Regions from separate parts of the Homo sapiens genome. Here regions 1, 2, 3, 5, 6 and 7 are each reported to be linked to region 4. The links are microRNA targets in miRTarBase. Many come from high-throughput screens and were not tested one by one. Region 4 holds a microRNA gene; each other region holds the end of a gene's coding sequence.

Region 1 (3,000 bases), not on the chromosome of region 4:
TATAGACACAGAAAGATGCTGATGATATACTAATAGAAGGGAAAAAGAACAAGTCCAGAACACAAACTTTTTAACCTATTTGTTAAAAAAGTAAAGAGGGATCCAAGAGAATAAAATGTGATAAAAAATCAGAGAGAATATAAAAGAAAAAGAAAAGAGAAGTAACATTTATATATTCTTTTAAGACATATTTAAAAGGGTCTACAAGGATACATATCAAACCATCAGACTGCACACTAGGAAATGGAAGGGAATTAGGGCCCAAAAGTTCAAAGGGATTTTTCCTTTTTTACTCAATATTATTCTTTATAACTAAAAATGTTCACTGTTTTTGTCATTTTGAGAAGACAAAAGCAAGTGAGAAATAATTTACTATCTTATGTTCACTCTTCTGTTTAAAAAAGAGCAAGATGTATAAACCAATGAAGGGAATATACTAAAACCCAACCGGAGACTAAAAGAGCAATAATAAAATTACATATTAAGAACAGCTACTGACACCTATAAAGAATCAAAGCAACTGACACAATAAATTTTATTGTTTCCATAATAATAGGCTCTGGACAAAGACAATGGAGACAATGACAACACATTTAAACTCCTATAACAAATTAATCTGTTACAAATTTCCAGTGGCTCAACATATTAAAATGCAAAACATATAAAGAAAAAAACAAGAAATATAAATATTCAGATTTTTGCAGTACAATGAAATGTCTTTTAAAAAAAGTTTGTTGTAATTGTGTATGTAATTCTGACAGTAATTCAAAACACAAAATCACACATTTTCCCTAACTTCCCATGTTCTGGATCTGGGGACTGCAATATTACAGAAATATGCAAAAATAAGTTTAGTGCTCAGAGATAAATAATTTTCCTTATTTCAATGCATCAATGCGCAAAAATTTCAATTCAAAAAAGCCAACCACTGCTATATGCAGATAAATAAAACATTTGACAACACTTTTATAATCAAACCCAACATTATACAAAAAATGTGTGGCACATGCACATACGTGTGCATATGTGTATGCAATGCCTATTTTAGAAAAAAGGTGTCTTGATGAAAATGATTTTGAAAATAGTCACTGACACACATTATATACAAAACCTTTTATATAAAAAATTAAACTATTTTCAATGAAATTCCATGTTCACATCCTATCTGAAAATTGCAATTGAATCATAAATAGGTCTACTAACGAAATCATGGCTAAGGCAGTTCTCTTTCCAAGGGTTTTCTTTTATATCCACCTGATGTCACTAATACTAATGTAGTCAAATATACAGATGCAACCTGACATGCCTATGCGTTATTACCTGGAGCTCTGTTCACTGTTATAATGGGAGAATTTACAGTTGCTACAAAGAATATTTTTCTTTTTTAAAATATACTGGTTTCTCTATTCCAAATTAAGCACTTACTTAAGACATTAAGAGGCTGAGAAGCCACTCCATTTGGTGTCAATATCAATAGCCCTATAAGAAAGAACTCTGTATTGGAATAGCTAGAAAAGTTCTCACTAAAGTGAGAACTTTAGTGCATCCTTCACCTGCATAGAATCAGTTTGGCTAATAGCTCTTTGCCCCAGAACACCAGTCTGGAGTTCAAATAGGCTCCTGAAAGTTCATCTCAGATAAGAAAAAAACATCTCACAGAAGCAATGTAAGGACACACAGGATAATAAAATGGTTAAAATCTGTTTGATGAGTCTTACTTACAGCATTCCTCATTTGGAGGAGCTGCTATAGGTTAAGGTGGAAACAAAAATGGAAAAGATCAGGGGCAATAAAGTTGAGTTGGCCAAGTATTTACGCCAGTAACCATTTCAATAAGTCTTTAAGCAAACAACTGCAATGACCTGGTACCTCTAAGCTCATCATTCTACAAGCACTGAGGATATGAAGCTTAAAAGGTGAAAACTTGAATACCCTTAGAAAAGGGGAACAGTCTGAGGCAAAAGTTGTAGGCCTGTAAATATATATTTTATTTTATTTTCATCTTTTTTGAGACGGAGTTTTGCTCTTGTTGCCCAGGCTGGAGTGCAGTGGTGTGATCTCGGCTCACTGCAACCCCCACCTCCCGGCTTCAAGTGATTCTCGTGCCTCAGCCTCCCGAGTAGCTGGGATTATAGGTACCCGCCACTATGCCCAGCTAATTTTTGTATTTTTCGTAGAGATGGGGTTTCACCATGTCAGGCTGGTCTCAAACTCCTGACCTCAGGTGATCCGCCTGCCTCGGCCTCCCAAAGTGCTGGGATTACAGGCGTGAGCCACCACGCCTGGCGTAAATATGTATTTTATATGCACACACAACTGTGTGTATTATTCTGTATATATTTACATACATATTCACAAGATGCCCTGCAGTATAATTCAAAAGGCCTTTAACAAGGAACAAATTGATTCTAGTATAGGCCCTAGAGTTCACACCACCTGTATAAGAAACAAATGTGCATGTATTCACATAATGTAAACCTCATCAACAAAAACACTAGGTTAAATAGTAAGTTTTAGGTTAATGGTTTCTAACCATTACCAATCAGTGATGTAATCAGAACATTTCTTACACTGAGAATCAAATTAAAAAGAAAACACAGCTGGACTTTAAATTCCACAAGAAAAAAGATGTTCAGTATGGCAAACATGAAGAAAGTTCAAATTCCAGAGTAGGGAAAAATATCAAAACTTTATAAATCTCCTGGGATGCAATTTAATTACTGCATCATTAGAAAAATAGACTCATAGAATGAACGGTGCTGCTATGGATTCTCTCAACACATCAACCCATGTTTATCTTTTTCCTCTTTTGTTTCCAGCTGGAGGTTTCTTCAACTGAAGGAGTTGTCCTCCTGTTCCAAAACCTGCAGAGGCAGGATTGGACACCCCAAAAGTCAAACCAGCTGATGCCGTGATGCCAGGATTGCTGAAGTTAAACCCAGATGTACTTGAGCTGCCAAAGCCTTATGTTTAGGGAAAAAAATATTCATATCAGAAGTT
Region 2 (3,128 bases), not on the chromosome of region 4:
GGTGAGACCCTAGAAAGTTCTGTGTAGTGGGACGGGGTAGGGGAAAGAGGCTTTGGGTAAGGCAGCACCCCTGAGCCTGACTTCCATCCCTCCAGCTCCTGGTCTCCCTTACTCATCATTTGAGGTCCCCCTGGCTGGGACGAGGCACCTAACAAAGCCTCCCTTGTATAGGTCTGTTTGTTTCACTAATAAATTCCCTGAGCAACAGCTCCTGGGGTGGGGTGGCCCAGCAGCCTGCCAGGAGCTGACCTGGAAGCCGCAGGACCACATTGTTTAGTGGCCACCTTGGTCTCTCCCTGTATTTCTACCACGAGCTCCAGAGATTTGGCCAACATTTTTTTAGTTCCCAGCTCTTATGGCTTGAGAAAGAGCTGGACCTAACCTCATAAAGTGACAGCTTTCTCTCCTCTTTCTTATTTATTTATTTATTTATTTTTGAGACGGAGTTTTGCTCTTGTTGCCCAGGCTGGAGTGCAATAGAGCTATCTCGGCTCACCGCAACCTCGGCCTCCTGGGTTCAAGCAATTCTCCTGCCTCAGCCTTCCAAGTAGCTGGGATTACAGGTATGTGCCACCACACTTGGCTAATTTTGTATTTTTAGTAGAGACGGGGTTTCTCCATGTTGGCCAGGCTGGTCTTGAACTCCCAACCTCAGGTGATCTGCCTGCCTCAGCCTCCCAAAGTGCTGGGATTACAGGCATGAGCCACCGTGCCAAGCATCTCTTATTTATTAATTTTTTTTTTCCCCTAGAGATAAGACCTAGTTCTGTCACCCAGGTGGTAGTGCAGTGCCACAATCATGGCTCACTGTCGTCTTGAACTCCTGGACTCAAGCAACCCTCCCACCTCAGCCTCCCAAGTAGATAGGACTACAGGCATGTGCCACCACAGTCAGCTACTTTTTGTTTGTTGGTTGGTTTTTTTTTAGACATGGGGTCTCTCTATGTTGCCTAGGCTGGTCTCAAACTCCTGGGCTCAAGCAGTCCTCCCACCTCAGCCCCCAAAGTGCTAGGATTACAGGCCTGAGCCACTATACCCACCTTCTCCTTTTTCTTAAACCAAAGCTGTGGGGTATGGTGGAGTTCCTTATAAAGGAAGGGGGAAGGAAACCAGTATTAAACTGAGCACTTACTATGGGACCTCTCATAGGCCACTTAATACTGACCACTCCCTATGAGATAGGTATTATTTCAGCCCCCTTTTACAGAAGAGGAAACTGAGGCTCAGAGTACAAGCAAATGTTCCCAAGGTCACCCAGCTACTAAGGGGTAGAGCCCGAGTTTGAATCTTAATCCCAAACCAAACCACTGAAACTTTGGGGTCAATCACCAAAGGTCTGCCCTACTCTCTTAGAGCACCTGACGGGCTCTCTGTTGACTGGAGAGAACTGACCACTGAGGTGTAACTAGCTCCTTCTGCTGCCCCATCCCCATACTAAGGCTAGTTTGATGGTAAAAATTAGTGACCCAGTTCCTACATTGTCACACCTGGGAACCCTTCCTGAAGCTTGAAAGGAACAGTTTGAGCACAAAGGTCCACTTTACTTACATGAAGGAACATAAAGGCATGAGAAACAGTCATCTCAATAAATGCAAGACATGAGCATAAAAGAGGTTCTCTGCCTTTCCAGCGTTGTTATTACAGAGAGAAACCTACAATTATTTTGTTAAACAAAATTCAAGGCTCCAGGACTCATCTCTGGAGCTGATATGTCTTAAATACTATTATAGTAGGAAAGGGAGAGGAGAAAATTCCCCACCCACTCCCCCGATTTGGCCCGTGTAGCTTCCCTTTGAGGGTGTGTGACTTGCCATCTGCAAAAGTCATGGCCAAAACAGGAACTAACAGGCCAAACTACCATCAATCTAGTCTTCTACAGCACCCTAACAGAGTGCCAGGGTCCTCTGTCCCCTCCGCACCTGAGGGCAAAGTTCCAGGAAGTTTACTGCCGGTGTTAGGAGGTGAGCTCAAGTTCAGTGTCTCTGCCTCTGGCTCCACAGAAACCAGCCCCTATCACGTGGCTTCTGGAAAATGTGCCCTCCTCAGGATTGGTCCAGGGAGTAGTCACAGGTAGAGAAAGTAAAGGGAGCAGCAATTGAAACTCGCCCTTGACCCTGTGTCCAGTAAGGAGGTGAAGTCTGTCTGGCTCACTCTCTCCATTCCCTGCCATGCCCACCTCCCTGCTGGCCCTGCCATTGCTTCAAGGAGGGCTGTTCCTCCTGGGTGAGACTTTTCACTCTTGAACTAGAGTGCCTTTGTATGTGGTCAGGGGGAGGGTGGAGGACCCTGGGATCTCCCAGGCCTTACAAAAGTGGCGGCACATAAATACAAACCTAAAAAACAGCCATTTCCTGCCAGCAGGTATCAACTGGCCCCACAGCTTCAGCTATGGCCAAAGAGGCCAGCGTGGCAAGGTCCTGTCTCAGATCTGGCTGATGGCAGGGAGCCAAGAGGTGCTAGCACCCTCCTCAGCCCTTCACTTTGATGACCGTCCTTCCTCGTGATCATCAAAGAGGTTAGGGTTCTCTGCCAGCGTGGCTCTCACTTTCTTCTTCTCCTTGAAGCGTCCTGAGTTGGAGACCTTGACGTGCTTGCCCTTTGTGCTCTTGTCCACAATCTTCTCCAGGCGGGTGTTAAAGTCGCTGTTGGGGCCTCCAGCGTCAGGCCTCGGGGGTTCTGCATCTCCCTCTGTTTGGGCATAGGTGTCAGGGATCTCATACAGCACTTTGGGAGTGGATTTCTTTTTCCGGAGGAAAGTCAGCTTCCACCAACCAATTTCAGTCGTCATGGCGCTCCCTAAGCCAAGGATGGGGCTTTCTGCTGGAGCAGGGTGGGGGAGACAAAGGGGTCAGTGGGAAAAGGGGGTGGGTGCCTTTGGACCAGCTTGCTGCAGACTCCTAATCATGGGCTGTTTTAAGAATTAAATAAAGGGCTGGGCGTGGTTCTTCATGCCTATAATCCCGGCACTTTGGGAGGCCAAGGCAGGTGGATCACCTAAGGCCAGGAGTTCAAGACAGGCCTGGCCAACATGGTGAAATCCCGGCTCTACTAAAAATACAAAAATTAGCTGGGCGTAGTGGCACGCACCTGTAATCCCAGCTACTCGGGTGGCTGAGGCAGGAAAACCA
Region 3 (3,140 bases), not on the chromosome of region 4:
GCCTAAGCCCTCATCCTTGAAAAGCACATACGTATCTTCATTTTGATACAGTGGGTTATTAGAAAAGTAAACCCCTTTCCACTTGGAGGAGGTAGAGGGGAAGAAAAAGCATACCCCAAAGCTCTGTTTTATTCTTCCCAGCTGTGCCAAAGGTCAAGCTGCTGTGTGGGGCAGATTTATTGGAGTCCTTTGCTGTTCCCAATTTGTGGAAGAGTGAAGACATCACCCAAATCGTGGCCAACTATGGGCTCATATGTGTTACTCGGGCTGGAAATGATGCTCAGAAGTTTATCTATGAATCGGATGTGCTGTGGAAACACCGGAGCAACATTCACGTGGTGAATGAATGGATCGCTAATGACATCTCATCCACAAAAATCCGGAGAGCCCTCAGAAGGGGCCAGAGCATTCGCTACTTGGTACCAGATCTTGTCCAAGAATACATTGAAAAGCATAATTTGTACAGCTCTGAGAGTGAAGACAGGAATGCTGGGGTCATCCTGGCCCCTTTGCAGAGAAACACTGCAGAAGCTAAGACATAGGAATTCTACAGCATGATATTTCAGACTTCCCATTTGGGGATCTGAAACAATCTGGGAGTTAATAACTGGGGAAAGAAGTTGTGATCTGTTGCCTAAACTAAAGCTTAAAAGTTTAGTAAAAATCGTCTGGGCACAGTGGCTCACGCCTGTAATCCCAGCACTTTGGGAGGCTGAGGCAGGTGGATCACGGGGTCAAGAGATCGAGACCATCCTGGCCAATATGGTGAAACCCCATCTCTACTAAAAATACAAAAATTAGCTGTGTGTGGTGGCACGTGCCTGTAGTCCCAGCTACTTGGGAGGCTGAGGCAGGAGAATCACTTGACCCCAGGTGGTGGAGGTTGCAGTGAGCCAAGATTGCACCATTGCACTCCAGCCTGGCGACAGAGCAAGACTCTGTCTCAAAAAAAAAAAAAAATTTAGTAAAAATCAATGGTAAGCTAAAATAAGTTTTTGTTTGTTTATTTGTTTTTGAGATGGAGTCTCTACTAAAAATACAAAAAATTAGCCAGGCATGGTGCCGCATAACTATAATCCCAGCTACTTGGGAGGCTGAGGCAGGAGAATCGCTTGAACCCGGGAGGCACAGGTTCCAGTGAGCCAAGGTTGTGCCACTGCACTCCAGCCTGGGCAAAAAAGCAAAACTCCATCTCAAAGAGAAAAAAAAAAAAGACCGGGTGTGGTGGCTCACACCTGTAATCCCAGCACTTTGGGAGGCCTAAGTGGGTGGATCACGTGAGGTCAAGAGTTCAAGACCAGCCTGGCCAATATGGTGAAACCCCATCTCTACTAAGAATACAAAAAATTAGCTGAGCATGGTGGTGGGCTCCTGTAGTCCCAGCTACTTGGGAGGCTGAGGCAGGAGAATCGCTTGAACCTGGGAGGCAGAGGTTGCAGTAAGCCAAGATCGTGCCATTGCACTCCAGCCTGGGTGACAGAGCGAGACTCCATCTCAAAAAAAAAAAAAAGCCTGACAGCTAGCAGGTTTCAGGATCCATCTGCCAAGTTAGTGAAAGGCTGGAGCCTCAAATCATACAGATGAGGGTCATTTTCTCCTCCTTAGCTTCTTGGAGTTTAAGAGTTGAAGGAGTCCTGAAAAGTAATGATAGAGCAAGATGAAGCTATCAGAACTGAATTTGGACTTCCTCTGGGAAACTACACCTAGTTCATCTGAAGTGTCACGTAAACTGCAGAAAGTTTCCAATGCTGGAAACTTCTCTCATACTATCGTGCCTTCCTACTCAGAAGTGCCTGTGCCCTGCTCAGCTGTGACTACTGACCTCAGGACCTCACTGGACAAGGCATGTGGGGACCCTTGCAGGAGCCCTGGTAAGGGTACAATGATCCTATTGTTTTTTGTTTTTGAGATGGAGTCTCACTCTGTCTCCCAGGCTGGAGTGCAGTGGTGCGATCTCCGCTCACTGCAACCTCCGCCTCCCGGGTTCAAGCAATTCTCCTGCCTCAGCCTGCTGAGTAGCTGGGATTACAGGCACCCACTACCATGTCCGGCTAATTTTGTATTTTTAGTAGAGATGGGGTTTCGCCATGTTAGACAGGCTGGTCTTGAACTCCTGACCTCAGGTGATCTGCCCACCTCGGCCTTCCAAAGTGCTGGGATTACAGGCATGAGCCACTGCACCCAGCCTGATCCTATTGTTGCACTATTTATGGAGCAACAACTTTGTACAAAGAACAAGCTTTGTACAGAGAACAAGCTTGGCTTTTTCTCCCAACGCCGAGGATGCTGTTGATGCTGCCACGTAATAGCATAATTTTGGGTGTCCTCAAGGACAGAACTTCCACTTTGAATAATGGAAGTTAGAACAATGAATTTCACAGGGGAATAAATATTAATGACTGACGTGAAGAAAATATGCCATTGTTTATTCCCTCCTGCATCATTTCCATAATTTGCTTTTGTACTGTCAATTTAGAGGAAATGTGTGATGCTGGTGTTTTGTTTGGCCTGTTTGTTTGATGCTGGGGGTTTTATGTGTTGTACCCTTTACCCCTTACATTGTGTAATTTGAAAGTGGCAAACAAACCTGCAGTAAAAGTCCTTGATTGGCATCTTCATTCGGATGATGGAGAGCCTTTGTGGTAGTGTTTGCTTATGTGAACAGCAGGCCTTTCAGATAAGAGAAGTGGCTTTTCCTTGGTGATGAAGGGGTAGAGATTGAGCCATGGGGATGGTTTAGGTTAAAGAATGCTTTTTTTTGGCCATCATGAGGATCTAACAACAGAGTAGAAGGAAGGATGCCCTAGGTCAGCATGCAGGGTGGTGGGAGGGCTTTCATCTTCCTTACCCAAGCCTCTCTTTTCACTTTTCTAGAAGTCCAGAAGTTGTTATATGATGAAATAGCCTCCTTTAACGTTTATTTCTGGGTGCCAACGGAGGCCCATTCCTCTAACATTCTCATAATTTTTCTCAAAGGCCTATGATCTAAACATTTCACCACGGCATCCACTCAGCTGTGAGGCTGCGTACACAGTCTCCACCTCTGAAATCTGAACTTCGTTTACCAGTGGTGCTGTTTGAACTTCATAATGTCAGCACTTCCTGAACACTTACTGTGTGCTTGGCTTGTGCTCCTGAGT
Region 4 (3,141 bases):
ACTCTGCCTCAAAAAAAAAAAAGAAAAAAATAATAATATGTATTTCTACCATAATTAACGTGCATGTGAAGTAATACCTTTTGGCGCGTCAGTCATCAGACCGCTCATATGTTCCAGTATAGTCCAGCACACACCTGCCTCATTAAAATGTGCTTTGAGTATATAATAGCTAATAAGGATTGGGTAGAATTTGAATAGCTGAATAAACATTTTTTTGCACAAGTGTACGTTTGTTATATTTAAGGAATAAGTTAACAGATAACAGATGCTATTGCTGTTAGGAGCCCTATCACAATACCTTTGATATCTTTGGGAATCCAGTTTTTTAATAATATAATAAATTCCCCTTTGTTCTCTGGGAATCTAACCATAGCCCTTAAAGGATATTACCTTGGTGAACTGTCAGGAAGTAGTGTCCCCACAACCTGGCAGTGTAAAACTCAGCCAAAGTAGCTGTAACTGTGAACTATCTAAAGGAGTCCACATGTGTGGCTTTCACAATGGTGCTCTTTCAAAGGCGGGAACCCTTTTTAAAATTGTACCTGTTTTCTATTTGATTGACTTTCCTAGGCTATTTCTAGATTGTGTGAAGACAAAGACTTGTGTAGAGCCGCTATGAGAAGGTCTTTCAGTGCTGATAACTTCATTGGTATTCAGCGCTCTAAAGCCATCCTCTCTTAAAAGGAGAAATGAGGGGTTATAACGTCATGGGACCTTCATCTACAAAGACTGGAGAAATACCACCTTTCCTGCTCAAAAACCAGCAAAATTAGTGTTTTCATCAAAAGGAAAGATCTCAAATTCAAGAGACTCATGGACAACAAGGATTATACTCCACAGGAAAGAATGGGACCTTGTCAATGCAACAAAACACTCTTCTGTCCTTTTTAATGTAAACAGAGTTACAAAAACCACTCCAAAGTGAAGGCTCCCATCCTACACACAGATATTTGCTTACTGTGTGGGCCGATAGCTGTGAACTATGTAAGGTTTTTTAAACAATAGTTTAAATTTTTAGACTTTAAAGACACTAACCATATAACTTTTATGTTTCTTCCAGTTTCTCTCCCTCCCCCCGCATTTTGCTGCATATGCCTTTAAAATCAATGCAGTATTACCATTAAAACATGGGACTCTAACTAAAGCCACTTAGGAGCAGACAGCAGCGTTGTTAGGTACTGAAGGGTTCTTCCTCCCTACTGTTACCATTGAAGCTGCTAGTCATTGGCAATCATTTTAAACCAAAAAGCTGCTGGATAACATTTGTCATTCATATTCTTTGCAAGCATTACTTTAGCATTTTAGCATGTTTGGGGTCATAAACAGAGGAAGTATCAGTTATTGATATCTACTTCTATTGGAGTCCATGTTGCATTTCTTGTGAACTATAAATGGTGCTTCTCATTTTCTGATAATTTTTCTCTTGCTAAATAAATGTATTAAAAGATATTTTCATAATGCCAACCAACATGGTGGTTCAGTGACGATGAGAAAAAGTGAAGCAGTTTTAAGCTTGAATATAGTTTGGGCCCTCCAAGGCACTGCAGCATGAGTATAAATGCTATAAACCTTTAAAAAACATGATTTGAAAGTTTTTTGTTTTGTTTTGTTTGTTTTTAAAGAGATGGGGGTCTTACTGCGTTGTCCAGGCTGGAGTGCAGTGGCTTTTCACAGGTGCAATCATTGTGCACTCACTGCAGCCTAGAACTTCCTGGTCTCAAGCCATCCTCTAGCCTCAGCCACACAAGTAGCTGGGACTACAAGTGCAACTGGCACCTGTCTCCTGAATATTAAGCTTTTAATTTTTTGTTTCGGTCACTCTTGATAGCAGACATTGACTGAAACAAAAAATTAAAAGCTTTATATTCAAAATTTGCAAAATGAAGCTGGGTGTGGTGGTGCACGCCTATAGTCCCAGCTACTTGGGAGGCTGAGGCTGGAGGATTGCTTGAGGTCAAGTATTGGAGGCTGCAGTGTACCATGATGGTGCCTATAGGAATAGCTACTACACTCCAACCTGGACAACGTTATCAAGACCCCATCTCTTAGAAAAATGCAAAATTAAATGCAAAAGAAATGGGCTGGGCATAGTGATTCATGCCTGTAATCTCAGTACCCTGGGAGGCTGAGGTGGAAGGATTGCTTGAGTGCAGGAGTTCAAGACCAGTCTAGGCAACATAGTGAGACCCTGCCTGTAAAAAAAAATAATAAAAATAGTTGGATATGGTGGCATGTGTCTGTAGTCCCAGCCACTCTGGAGGCTAAGGTGGGAGGATCAGTAGAGCCCAGGAGGTCAAGGCTGCAGTGGGCCATGATCATGTCACTGCTCTCCAACCTGGGCGACATCCAGACCCTGTCTCAAAGAAAAAAGCAGAAGAAAAATGTTCAGACAAGGTTTTGTAAAGGTTTGTAGCATTTATATTTCTACAAGTATCAAAGCTTAAAATTACACTGAACTTTTGGAATACCTTGTATCTCCATAAAATGCCCTCTTTTTAAAAGTAGTTACCCGCAGAGCTGTGCTCTATATGCTTTGATTACCGCAGTTTCTTTAAAGGAAGATTTTGAAGAGCAGTGTTAATTAACATGTAATAAAAGGAATTGGACCCTAATTATAGAAGGTGATATGAACAGCTGTTTTATCATCCTACATGCTACCAAGCTGTAGGTGTCCCATTAAGTCCTGCTATTTAAGAAATACTTACATAACCCTTAGGAACTCTTCAGGCTTTAAAAGGCAAGGAGCAAATAATTTTAGGAGACCGATAATGTCACCTAAATTTGAAATACTAAGAAGAGGTTAGTGTTCTCAACTATGTGAAATCTGTTTCTCCTACTTTCTCAAATCTAATCCTAGGAATCTTGCTTATAAACAAAGCATTTCTGGGACAGGAGTACTTCCTCTATTATAGCAATGCTTCACATCATATTGTGCTGCAGTTTCCATCATTTTTAAAGGACAGAGACATAAATGATAAATAATGGTATACAAATATTACAATCTACCACCTCAAAAAAACAAATATTGTTTATGGAATTCAGAGTTTGGAGATTCAAGTATTGATTGCAGTTTTATTTTGAAAAGAATGCTACAATTTATGTGGTTTTTATTTCTCATGTTTATATTAAAAGCTAATAAAC
Region 5 (3,000 bases), not on the chromosome of region 4:
CACCTCCCACCTGGCCACTCACAGGTAGCCTGGGTTGTGATAGTCGTCCTCATCCTCATCCGCATCCTCACAGGCTGGTTCTGGGGGTAACGACACAGGGGTCAGCCTAGTCCAGGACGGACCCCAGACTCCCCACCCAGCCTGGGCACCTCGGATCCCAGACGCACCCTCGTTCTCGTAGCTCGCCACACTGTTGGCTTCAAAGAGAGGGTGAGAGGGAGACTAAGTCAGCTCAGGCCAGGCCTATCTTCTTCCCAGCCCCCGCCGCCTGAACCCTTCCCCACACTTACCACCATCAGAATCCCGCCGGGAAGATGGCGTCCGGTGGGAGCCCCCAAGGGGCTGCGGGGATCTTCTGGGAGTCAAAGGTCAGGGGTCATGCCTGAGGTGGGGCTCAGGGGGCAACAGCAGTTGCAAAAGGGAAAGGGGCCCCCAATCCAAAAAAGTGAAGGGGTAGAGAGTGGAGTTTGGAGGGGGAGGGGCTGAGCTTTGGAGGGGCAGGGGCTGAGCAGCTACTCACGGGATGGGGAGCAGGTCTGGCTGGCTCAGGGGTGGGTAGGAGGTGACAGGTGGGTAGGCAGGTGGCCAGGGGGCAACCGTGTCTGAGGACACAGAACCAAGTTGAAAGAAGGACTCCGGACATCGTCAAGGCCTCAAAGAACAGACTAAGCCCCTGAAAGCCCCACACCCTGGACAGGCCTGGGGGAGCCATCTCCCCTCTCCCAGCTCAGGTCAAGGCCATGTGGGCAGCCCCAAGGTGGCAGGGGAAGTCTGAAGGTTCACGCTCACTCCCACACCAGGGGACCCTCTCCCTGGCACCCAAGGTAGGGGACCCTCCTTGTACTCACGAGGCCGTTTGAACTGGATGCCCCTTGGATACAAACTGGTAAAGGAGACACAGCTTGGGGATGGGGCTGGAAGATGGAGGATGGAAGCCCCAGCCCTGCCCCGCCATGGGGTGTGGAGGGAGACCCAGGGCGGCTGGGGCGGACTCACCTATCTGAGGATGTGCTGTCGTAGGAGCCTGGGAAAGAGAGGGCTGGTGAGGCAGGAACAGGGGGTGCTTAGGGCAGAAGGTGCTGGGATCCAGGGACTCTCAGAGGCGCTGGGATCAGGACGGAGGCAGGGACAGAGCCAGGACAGACACAGGGGCTGGGAGTGGATGAGGATCCCGTCGGTGTCCCTGGGCCCTGGGTACCCCCACCAGTTTCCCACTCACCTGGCAGTCTGTGGCAGTGCACACACAGTGCCATCAACATGGCCAGGATGGGCAGCAGCAGGAGCCCCAGCACGCAGGGGACCAGGATGGCCTCCTCCATCTGCAGGGGAGCTCGGAGCAGGCTGGCTGCACCCCTAGGCCCCTCAAGGGCAGAGTCAAGGCCAGATGAAGATGGGGTGAGGACCGGACCCGGCAGGGAGCAGGGGGCAGGTAGGCACCAGGTGGCAGGGGAGCCCGGGAGGAGGCAGCTGTGCCCTCCCCGGGGCTCCCGGGATGGGTCCCCTCTTTTACTGGGCTGAGTGTGCGTCCAGCTGACTGTGGAAAGTCCCTGCTCCCAGGGTGGTCAGACCAGGGCCTGGGCTGAAGTCGGGGGATCCAGTTACCCCTGCGTCCCAGCCCTACCTGCCCCTCCTCGGCGCCCGCCTCTCCGTGCCCGCCCTCCCGCCCGCCTGCGGCAGGAAGCTGTGGTGAGCGCCGGGCGAGGGCAGGAAATCATCAAGCTCTCAGCCGGCTGCACCCGCCCCCTTCCCACCCCACCCGCCAGTGGGGAGGGGGCAGGAGGAGGCCCGGGAGCCACCCCAGGCACTCACCAAGGGTCTGCTGGCCCCCCCCAAGACGGGGACAGCCACCTGCCAGCTGGCAGCCGTGGCCTCCATATCCAGGACCCGGGGAGGCAGCGAGCAGGGAGGCCCTGACAGTGGGAATTCTGGGGTACAAAGGGCAGTGCCCACCCCCACCTCAGCCAGGCCTGTGAGGCAAGGGACAGGCTCCAGGGAAGCAGGGGCGTGACTCACGGTCACACTCAGCCAGCTCACTCGGAGAAGAGCAGTCCCCCATCTCAGTCGCCCAGCCCAGAAGGGCAGAGACTCACCCAGAGCCCTGAGGAATGACCCACAGTCTTCAGGAGCCCTGGGGTGAAGACGGGGTGCAAGATCAGAGGCCACCCAGAGAAAGACGAGAGCAGGCACCTGGGGTCTGGCTACAAATTTTATTCCGTTACAAATAGCACCGAGCCCTTGGGGCTGCCCCTGTGGAGAGGGATCCCCCTCCTGGACCCCCACCTCCTCCCCTGAGCTACCCAGGTAGTGTCTGGGAGCTGGCACACGGCCCAGGGTCCCTCTGGAAGCTGGGCCAGGCCAAGGGGTTAGGCCCAGGCCCTTCGTGGGGTGGGCCCAGGGCCAGCTGTGGCAGATGTGCAGGTAGGTGAGCGGCAGCCTCTCAGATGAGCACACTGGCCACGGGCACGCGGGTGGAGCGGCCCCGCTGGGGCACCACAATCCGGTCGTCTGTGGACCCTGCTTCGTGCAGCAGGCCTGAGGGGGGAGGGTCAGAGCCAGGGTGAGCTGGATGGACAGACAGACAAAGCCAGAGAAGGGCAAACAGGCAGCGGGAAATGGATGGGGCAGCCACAGAGCCACCCCAGGGGTGGATGCAGACAGACTGGAGGCCAAACAAGGGGAGGGCTGTGGACTGAGCTGCCAGGTGCACAGGAGTGGGCAGACAGATGGACAGACAGACAGGCAGATCAAGAAGCTGGGCCGGGCACAGCTCCTAACTGACCCTGCACGTGCAGCTGTGCCCGCCGGCGGTCGGCCTCAATGAAGATGGCGGTGCCCAGGAAGGCTGCGCCGCCCAGTGCCCCAACAAACGCGCAGAGCATGAGCGAGAACTGCAGAGCCCGGAACTCGGACAAGAAGGAGGGGGGCCAGTTCCGGCGCAGGCGGTCAGAGATCTGCAGGGAGAGGAGACAGGAAAGCCAGGGGAGTCAGCCTCATGGATGA
Region 6 (3,000 bases), not on the chromosome of region 4:
AACTGTTCCTGTCACATGTCACGTAGGCTGTCTGGTAGCCTGCTGCTGCCTCATGGCCAGCTAACTGCTGGCCACATGCTGACTGGGAACCTCAGGGTCCTAACACACTTATAGAAGCACAAGACAGGTATTTTGTTTCTGATACAAGAACAAGCAAGACTGAGAATGGCTTTCTTTAATTTTGAATTGGAGCAATATGCTTTCCTGAGCATCAGGAAAGAGTGGTGATGTCACAGCAAAGGAGGGAGGCGGTGGCTAAGAACATGCACATTCTTGAATGTCCTCTGCATGGTGCCTGGCCTTCTGGATGGTTTCGGACAAAACTTTATGTGCTAGGTGGGAGTGGGAAAAGGAGTGGGGGAAGGATAAAGCCATCTTTGGACACCCACTCCCACTGTGGATAACCACAGCGTGTGGCCGAACAAAGCTGATTAGAACACAGCCCTACCTCGGGAGGCTGCCATCTGCCAGGCCCTCCTTCCCCTCCCAGCCTTCAAGAAATGTTATCTATGAAAGGGGAAAAATGCCAGCCACATCCTCATTCCAACTCTATCCTTAATGCAGCTTCACAAAATTCCTAAATTCTATCTTGGGTCCTTGAAGAGATTGGACTATGACTTGGGTGGCCCCCCAAAATCCTCACCCTTTCCCTTCCCTCAGTGCAAAGTCTCACCTGTGCAAAGACATCACTTTTAATTATTTTTTTTTAATTAAAATACTGTTATACCCAGTGGAATGCGGCAGCAATCCTGGTACAGGGTGGCATAACAAAACAGCCATGTTTACATTTTAAATATTTACGATAACTTAAACATACAGACACACATCATGGTCTTTGGCAGAAAATGTTCACAGCACAAAAAATACTTTAAAAGAAATACCAAATATTAATCCAAAATATATTAAGTTGTTTTTTTTCTTTCACAATATTTTTTGCCTTTTTTTCCTCTTTTTTCTTTTTGCTTTGTAAACAATGCACATGAACCAAATGTATTTTTCAGCTTTAAACAGGGGTAGGGGAATTTTTTAAAAAAAATTGCAATTGTCCAGCAAATGCAAATGTTTAAAAAGGAAACTTGAGGAACCATGGAAATAAAACAACACATACCAAACCTAAAAACGATAAAGGAAGAAAACAAAGAATCAAGGAGAACTAAAAACGGTAAAGACAAAACTGCTAAAACCCACCAATAGCTCCTGGGGCTGAAGTGAGGGACTCTTTAAGACCAGAAGTCAAAGTCACTGCTGCTAGCAGGCTGCCATGTGGGTGTTTCACCCCAATTCCAAAGCATCTGGTGCTGCTTTAGGGCGCTGGGCATGGGTAGCTTGAGGAGCCAGCCTCCTGGGCACTGTTTTGTGATGGGGGCTCCATTCAGAGGACTATTTGACTCTTGTAGCTCATTAACTAGTTTTCAACTGCTTTGCTCCTCTCCCAAACCCTCCAGGTGGGAATGAAGACACTTATGCTAACAAGACATCTCCAGTTTCTCAGAAAGAACTGGTACCGGGTAGGGCCACCGAAGCCCACCTGGGGGCATGGCAGATGTCTGTTCACGGTGGCTCATTTCATCTGGCTCAGGGTTTATGACCAAACTGACAGGATGTTCCAGGGACAGGAGCTGTGGAGCCACTTCAAGAGGCTGGTGGTGGGGGTCCCGTGGGCATTTATAGGGCTCAAGATAGAGGAAAAGGCAGCCGAGATCCTGGGAATCGAGCAGCTTTAACATCCACGGGCCAGGAACTTGAGGAGGAGGCATAACTGGGAGGCCAGTCAGAAGTTTCAGAAACTGACAGTAGGAAGAGGGGAGCACAGCCCATGGAGACACATCGGAACCTGCAGGCCTCAGTCTTCTGTTCCACAAGAAAGGGAATTATATACAAACTGCGCACTGTCTCCCAGTCCACTTAAATGGCCCCTCACCCACAGCAAGTGAGAAGGTGAGGCTGTGTCTTCTCCAAGACTAACACCCTTAATAGTCCCCAAAAAATTCAAGTCTTAGTATCCCAAGAAGGCAGTGAGGAACTGAAGAGCAGATGACGTTGGCTGGAACCAAACTTAGCCAGAGAACAATATGGCTGACTTGATTAGTGAACCAGTCCACCTGGTGTCCACGGGCAGCCGTCCGTGGAAATTAGTTCCCCAAACCAACACAGCCACTCCCTCCCTGCCTGACTGACAACTGGCAGGGCAGAGGGAGCTCAGCTCCTTTCTGAGCTGTCAGTTGCTACCCCAGTAGCAGGCCTTGGGCAAGAAGTCAAGGCTGAATCCTCATTCTCCATAAGGCCCGGAGGAATGTGGGCTAAGAAGCAGAGTCTTCTGGGGGTGCCGGTGCTCTCACAGCTCTCCTCTCCCCTGGGGTCCTCCTCCTGAGCTCCTGGGACCAGATGGTCAATGGGAATGAGTGTCTGGCTGGGGAAAGGGACGGAGCAGCGGTTGACGGGGCTGCTGAAATGGCTGAGAGTGGCACAGGGCAGAGGAGGGGAGAGAATGGCTCAGAGTCCTGAAGCACCACCTCCTTCAGATCAGTATCTCCACCATGTCTGACAAGTCCTGGACTCTGGATGTAGCTACAGAGTCTGGAGACAGACAAGAACACAGGCACATGCCAATGAGTGTTACTAGATTGCTTTTAAAATCCTGGCACATTTGAAAGACAAAGATCGTTCTTCACCAACTTTTCCCACCTCTGCTGCCCAGGTTCCCAGAACTCGGCCAACCAAGCACAATGCTCTGCCCCCTTTCAGTGCTCAGCCCAGCCCACCAACCTCCGATGTGTAGGATGCATTTGTTTCTAACTTTGAACTGGTTGGAGGGCTTAGAGAGAGCAATGGAGAGCCCTGAGGGAGGCAGGCTGCAGCATTCTTTTCATGCCTGTGGTTTTCTGAGATCATGAGGCACAGGCAAATATGCAAAGGCCAATGTGAAAGGGGAGTGGAAAAAGAAATGGCATCTTCTCAGATTTCTCCTTCCCGGACTCTTTAAACAGGCTTCCAGAGTGC
Region 7 (3,141 bases), not on the chromosome of region 4:
TTCTTTTCTTTTAGAGATGGGAGCCTTGCCCAGGCTAGTCTCAAACTCCTAGCCTCAAGTGATCCTCCCATCTCAGCCTCCCAAAGTGACAGGATTACAGGTGTGAGCCACCATGCCTGGCTGCTCTGTAAGTGTCTGAATTTCATTTTGTATTTATCAGTCTGTTTAGATTTTCTTTCCCTTCTTGGGTCAGTTAGGCCATTGGTTTCTTTTTAAAGGTTTTCAAATTTATTTGCATCTAATTCTTCAAATTACTCTCAAAATTATTCCAGTATATATTCTTTTGTTCCTATTTTCTTCTGTATTCTTTATTAAAATAGCTAATGATTTATCTAGCAGGACTTATATTCTTTCCATAACTTTCCTGCACCCCAATTAATCTCCAATTTTATATTTCTTCTGGCCTTCCTTATAGTTTCCACAGGTTTATTTTATTCATTTTTTAAAACTTTTATTTAATTGTTTATTTTATTATCATTCTTTCTTATTCAGCAATCTAAGTGCTTAGGGATATAGAATTTCCTCTAAGCAGCATATGCTAGGCTTTAACAATGTTAGGGAGGCCTCCCCTTTCTGGGGAAGACCACACTTACATTAACACAGGACTGTGGGATGCCAAGAGGTAGAGAAGAGCTTATGAATATCCAGATTACATCTTCACTGATCCTGCACAAAGGTGGGGTTCCTCGGTTACCCACTGGGTCCTATTACCCAAGTCTGGGTCAGCATACCGAGACTACGGGTATATAGAACAAGTGCAACTGGCGATAATCCTTCTGTTGGGGAGAAAAATCTTTTTTTTCTATTCATCTTAGGTTCTCCATCTGTGGCCCTATCAAGTAGACTAACAAAAGACAGATTGACAAGACAGAAACAAAGCATGTGCATTGTACAAACACAGGGGAGTACTGAGATGAATACTCAAAAGAGGATTTAGAACTTGGGCTTATATAGCATTTTAAGAAAAGAATACATTTTTTAAGTGACAAGGAAGACGAAAAGGACTTTGAGTTTCTAGTGCAGTAAATTGTGGGAAGGCAACTTTTTCTTTCCCTTTTTTTTTTTTTTTTTTTAAAAAAAAAGACTTCTCTGGTGCTATGTCCAGGCTGATAAGAGTCTAAAGTCTCTGGTGACTAACTTTTGTTCTTCCCCGAGTAAGAAGACACCTTCACAATTTCATATCCTGCTTTTAGGCAAATAGGGAGAGGGCAGAGGTGTTTGTTTGTTTTTAATCTATTTTTTTTCTCAATTGTCTTCAACTCAAAATACTTCTTATGCCAAAGATGGCATATTCTGCTACCCTTCACTTACTACTTACAACCCAGCCTCTATCATCATAATTAGAACTTCTGACCCTGGGGAACATGGGCAATAGTTTGAACTCTTTTATATCTCCCTTAGGCAGAGATGGAGGCCCAGCCATGCCTCTGACATCTAGACACAACTGTTGCTTCATTTCTCCTATTCTCAGAGGTGATGTTGTAGGACTTCAACAAATATCAGTAAACATTAATTTTTTTTTTCCTTGAGGCACAGCATGATCTTGGCTTACTGCAGCTGCTGCAGGCTCAAGCAATTCTCCTGCCTTGGCCTCACGAGTAGCTGGGTTACAGGCCCCTACCACCATGCCCGGCTAATTTTTGTATTTTTAGTAGAGACAGGGTTTCACCATGTTGGCCAGGCTGGTGTTGAACTCCTGACCTCAAGTGATCCACCTGCCTCAGCCTCACATAGTTCTGGGATTACAGGCGTGAGCCACCATGCCTGGCCATCAATTTTTATGTCAACTCTAAATTATAACATTTAGCAATTTTGTGACTTTTTATGGTCATCATTAATGTTGTTTATGTTTTAGTTGTAGTCCTGTCATTACTCACTCGGGTATGGTAATTTGGTCTTTTTCAAAATGAAGTTAAGGTCTATTTGCTCTTCTCTGAATCATAATAAGAACTGCCAACAGCCATTTCAGCAATAACTATTTACTGAGATTTTAAAATATTTCAAGGTAATTGGTCCTAGCAGACTGGAAAATACCAAATTCTTTTCCAGAACTGAATCCCCCATCAAAGTTCAATTTTACTCATAATTCCCTTTTCATTTGAAGCATCTCATTGTAAGCCAGTCTTAACCCTTCTCTCACACTTTGCTTGGCTGTTTCTCAGGTAGAACTCAGTAAGTCTGGTAGCCTCCAGGACTGCCGCTTAGATTATTAAACAACATGTCAGTGGTTGGAAGAGTCAATGTTATTTTGATTTTTCTGTTTTGTTTTGTTTTAAATGCAGTTGGCGGATAATTGCAGCTTTCTTTCATTCCCTACATGAGTTCAAATGGCAGCAAACAAACTAGGAGAACGCAGACCTTCTGACTTGTGGGTACCCCTACTCATCACCTGAAGACCCTTGGAAATCAAAGCCCTGACCCATTAAAGACGGATGGAGACAGCAACATACGATCATCACTATTATCTTGCTTTGCCCCAGTCCAGGTTAACCATCTGTGGTATTTTTAGTTGCTAAGTCCATATATTCAACATAAATCAATTATATATCCACTAAAATCTCAGCACTAGTCTAACTACTAAGGAAATGACAGCGAAGAAAACAGACCAAACGTCTGCCCTTATGGGATTTATATTATTTTCTCTGTGCTGGTTAAACCAAGGAGCTTCTGCTCTTTTCCTTAGTCACCTGGGGGAGGCAGAAACAAAGGAGAATATTGATAAACCTGGAAATAGGGCCGGAGAGTATCAGAGAAGGAAGCCTTCGGGAAAGTAAAGATGTGGCAGCCAGTATTCCCGTTATAAAAGGATACAACTCCGGCCTCATAGTCCAGAAAAATTCCCACAAGCAGGGGCTGCTCATGCAGATGAAGGGAAGTTGGGGGAGAAGTAAGTGCTACATAGCCTTTCTTTTTGCACAGCCTGAGGGTCCAGAATCCAGACTGAGGCTCTTGCTTCATGCCAGTGCCCCTCTGCACATTTTCCATACAAACTCCTAAATCCCATCCGGTTCCTTCGCCAACATCCACTTCAAAGTAACGTCTTCCTGAGGTGAAGCCTTCACAACCCAAGACACAGGGGAAGGCAGTAAATCTCCTGGAAGATGTGTCCTGATTCTCCTGGGTGTATCCACGAGTCACTTG

Evidence for each region. The annotated mature microRNA hsa-miR-4775 reads UUAAUUUUUUGUUUCGGUCACU and lies in region 4 at 1,799-1,820, shown strand. An mRNA with a match to its seed (bases 2 to 7 or 8) in the 3' UTR can be bound and repressed. Matches are read on the target gene's strand: a 7mer-m8 pairs with bases 2 to 8, a 7mer-A1 pairs with bases 2 to 7 and ends in A, and an 8mer does both.
Region 1: the mRNA of NUP58 is a reported target of hsa-miR-4775. Seed matches in the 3' UTR shown: 7mer-m8 at 2,157-2,163 and 7mer-m8 at 870-876.
Region 2: the mRNA of PRR15L is a reported target of hsa-miR-4775. The part of its 3' UTR that is shown has no 7-base or 8-base seed match.
Region 3: miRTarBase lists NMNAT1 as a target of hsa-miR-4775. Seed matches in the 3' UTR shown: 7mer-m8 at 794-800, 7mer-m8 at 1,043-1,049 and 7mer-m8 at 1,344-1,350.
Region 5: miRTarBase lists SPNS1 as a target of hsa-miR-4775. The part of its 3' UTR that is shown has no 7-base or 8-base seed match.
Region 6: the mRNA of AMOTL2 is a reported target of hsa-miR-4775. Seed matches in the 3' UTR shown: 8mer at 176-183.
Region 7: the mRNA of TRIM38 is a reported target of hsa-miR-4775. Seed matches in the 3' UTR shown: 7mer-m8 at 1,635-1,641 and 8mer at 1,510-1,517.

Annotation. Positions count from the first base shown.
Region 1 is chr13:25,339,928-25,342,927 of GRCh38, reverse strand. NUP58 (nucleoporin 58) reads right to left here. Exons shown (of 16, transcript NM_014089.4): 16 at 507-2,963. The coding sequence ends at 2,794. Among named protein-coding and RNA genes, the nearest start is that of ATP8A2, 31 kb to the left of the region's middle.
Region 2 is chr17:47,950,447-47,953,574 of GRCh38, forward strand. It overlaps PRR15L (proline rich 15 like), which reads right to left. Exons shown (of 2, transcript NM_024320.4): 2 at 1,521-2,817. The coding sequence starts at 2,788. The coding sequence ends at 2,477. Among named protein-coding and RNA genes, the nearest start is that of PRR15L, 5.9 kb to the right of the region's middle.
Region 3 is chr1:9,982,160-9,985,299 of GRCh38, forward strand. NMNAT1 (nicotinamide nucleotide adenylyltransferase 1) reads left to right here. Exons shown (of 5, transcript NM_022787.4): 5 at 142-3,140. The coding sequence ends at 542. Among named protein-coding and RNA genes, the nearest start is that of RBP7, 13 kb to the right of the region's middle.
Region 4 is chr2:207,753,018-207,756,158 of GRCh38, forward strand. It overlaps MIR4775 (microRNA 4775), which reads left to right and starts at 1,790; the gene lies at 1,790-1,864. It overlaps CCNYL1 (cyclin Y like 1), which reads left to right. Exons shown (of 10, transcript NM_001330218.2): 10 at 571-3,141. The coding sequence ends at 681.
Region 5 is chr16:28,983,737-28,986,736 of GRCh38, reverse strand. SPNS1 (SPNS lysolipid transporter 1, lysophospholipid) reads right to left here. Exons shown (of 12, transcript NM_032038.3): 11 at 2,780-2,951; 12 at 2,194-2,532. The coding sequence ends at 2,438. LAT (linker for activation of T cells) reads right to left here and starts at 1,685. Exons shown (of 12, transcript NM_001014987.2): 1 at 1,220-1,685; 2 at 997-1,024; 3 at 849-883; 4 at 521-602; 5 at 291-355; 6 at 168-197; 7 at 23-80. The coding sequence starts at 1,319. RefSeq lists silencers at 1,565-1,624, 1,645-1,924.
Region 6 is chr3:134,355,187-134,358,186 of GRCh38, forward strand. It overlaps AMOTL2 (angiomotin like 2), which reads right to left. Exons shown (of 10, transcript NM_016201.4): 10 at 161-2,577. The coding sequence ends at 2,519. Among named protein-coding and RNA genes, the nearest start is that of MIR6827, 11 kb to the right of the region's middle.
Region 7 is chr6:25,983,226-25,986,366 of GRCh38, reverse strand. It overlaps TRIM38 (tripartite motif containing 38), which reads right to left. Exons shown (of 8, transcript NM_006355.5): 8 at 1-3,141. The coding sequence ends at 2,680. Among named protein-coding and RNA genes, the nearest start is that of LINC02980, 7.9 kb to the left of the region's middle.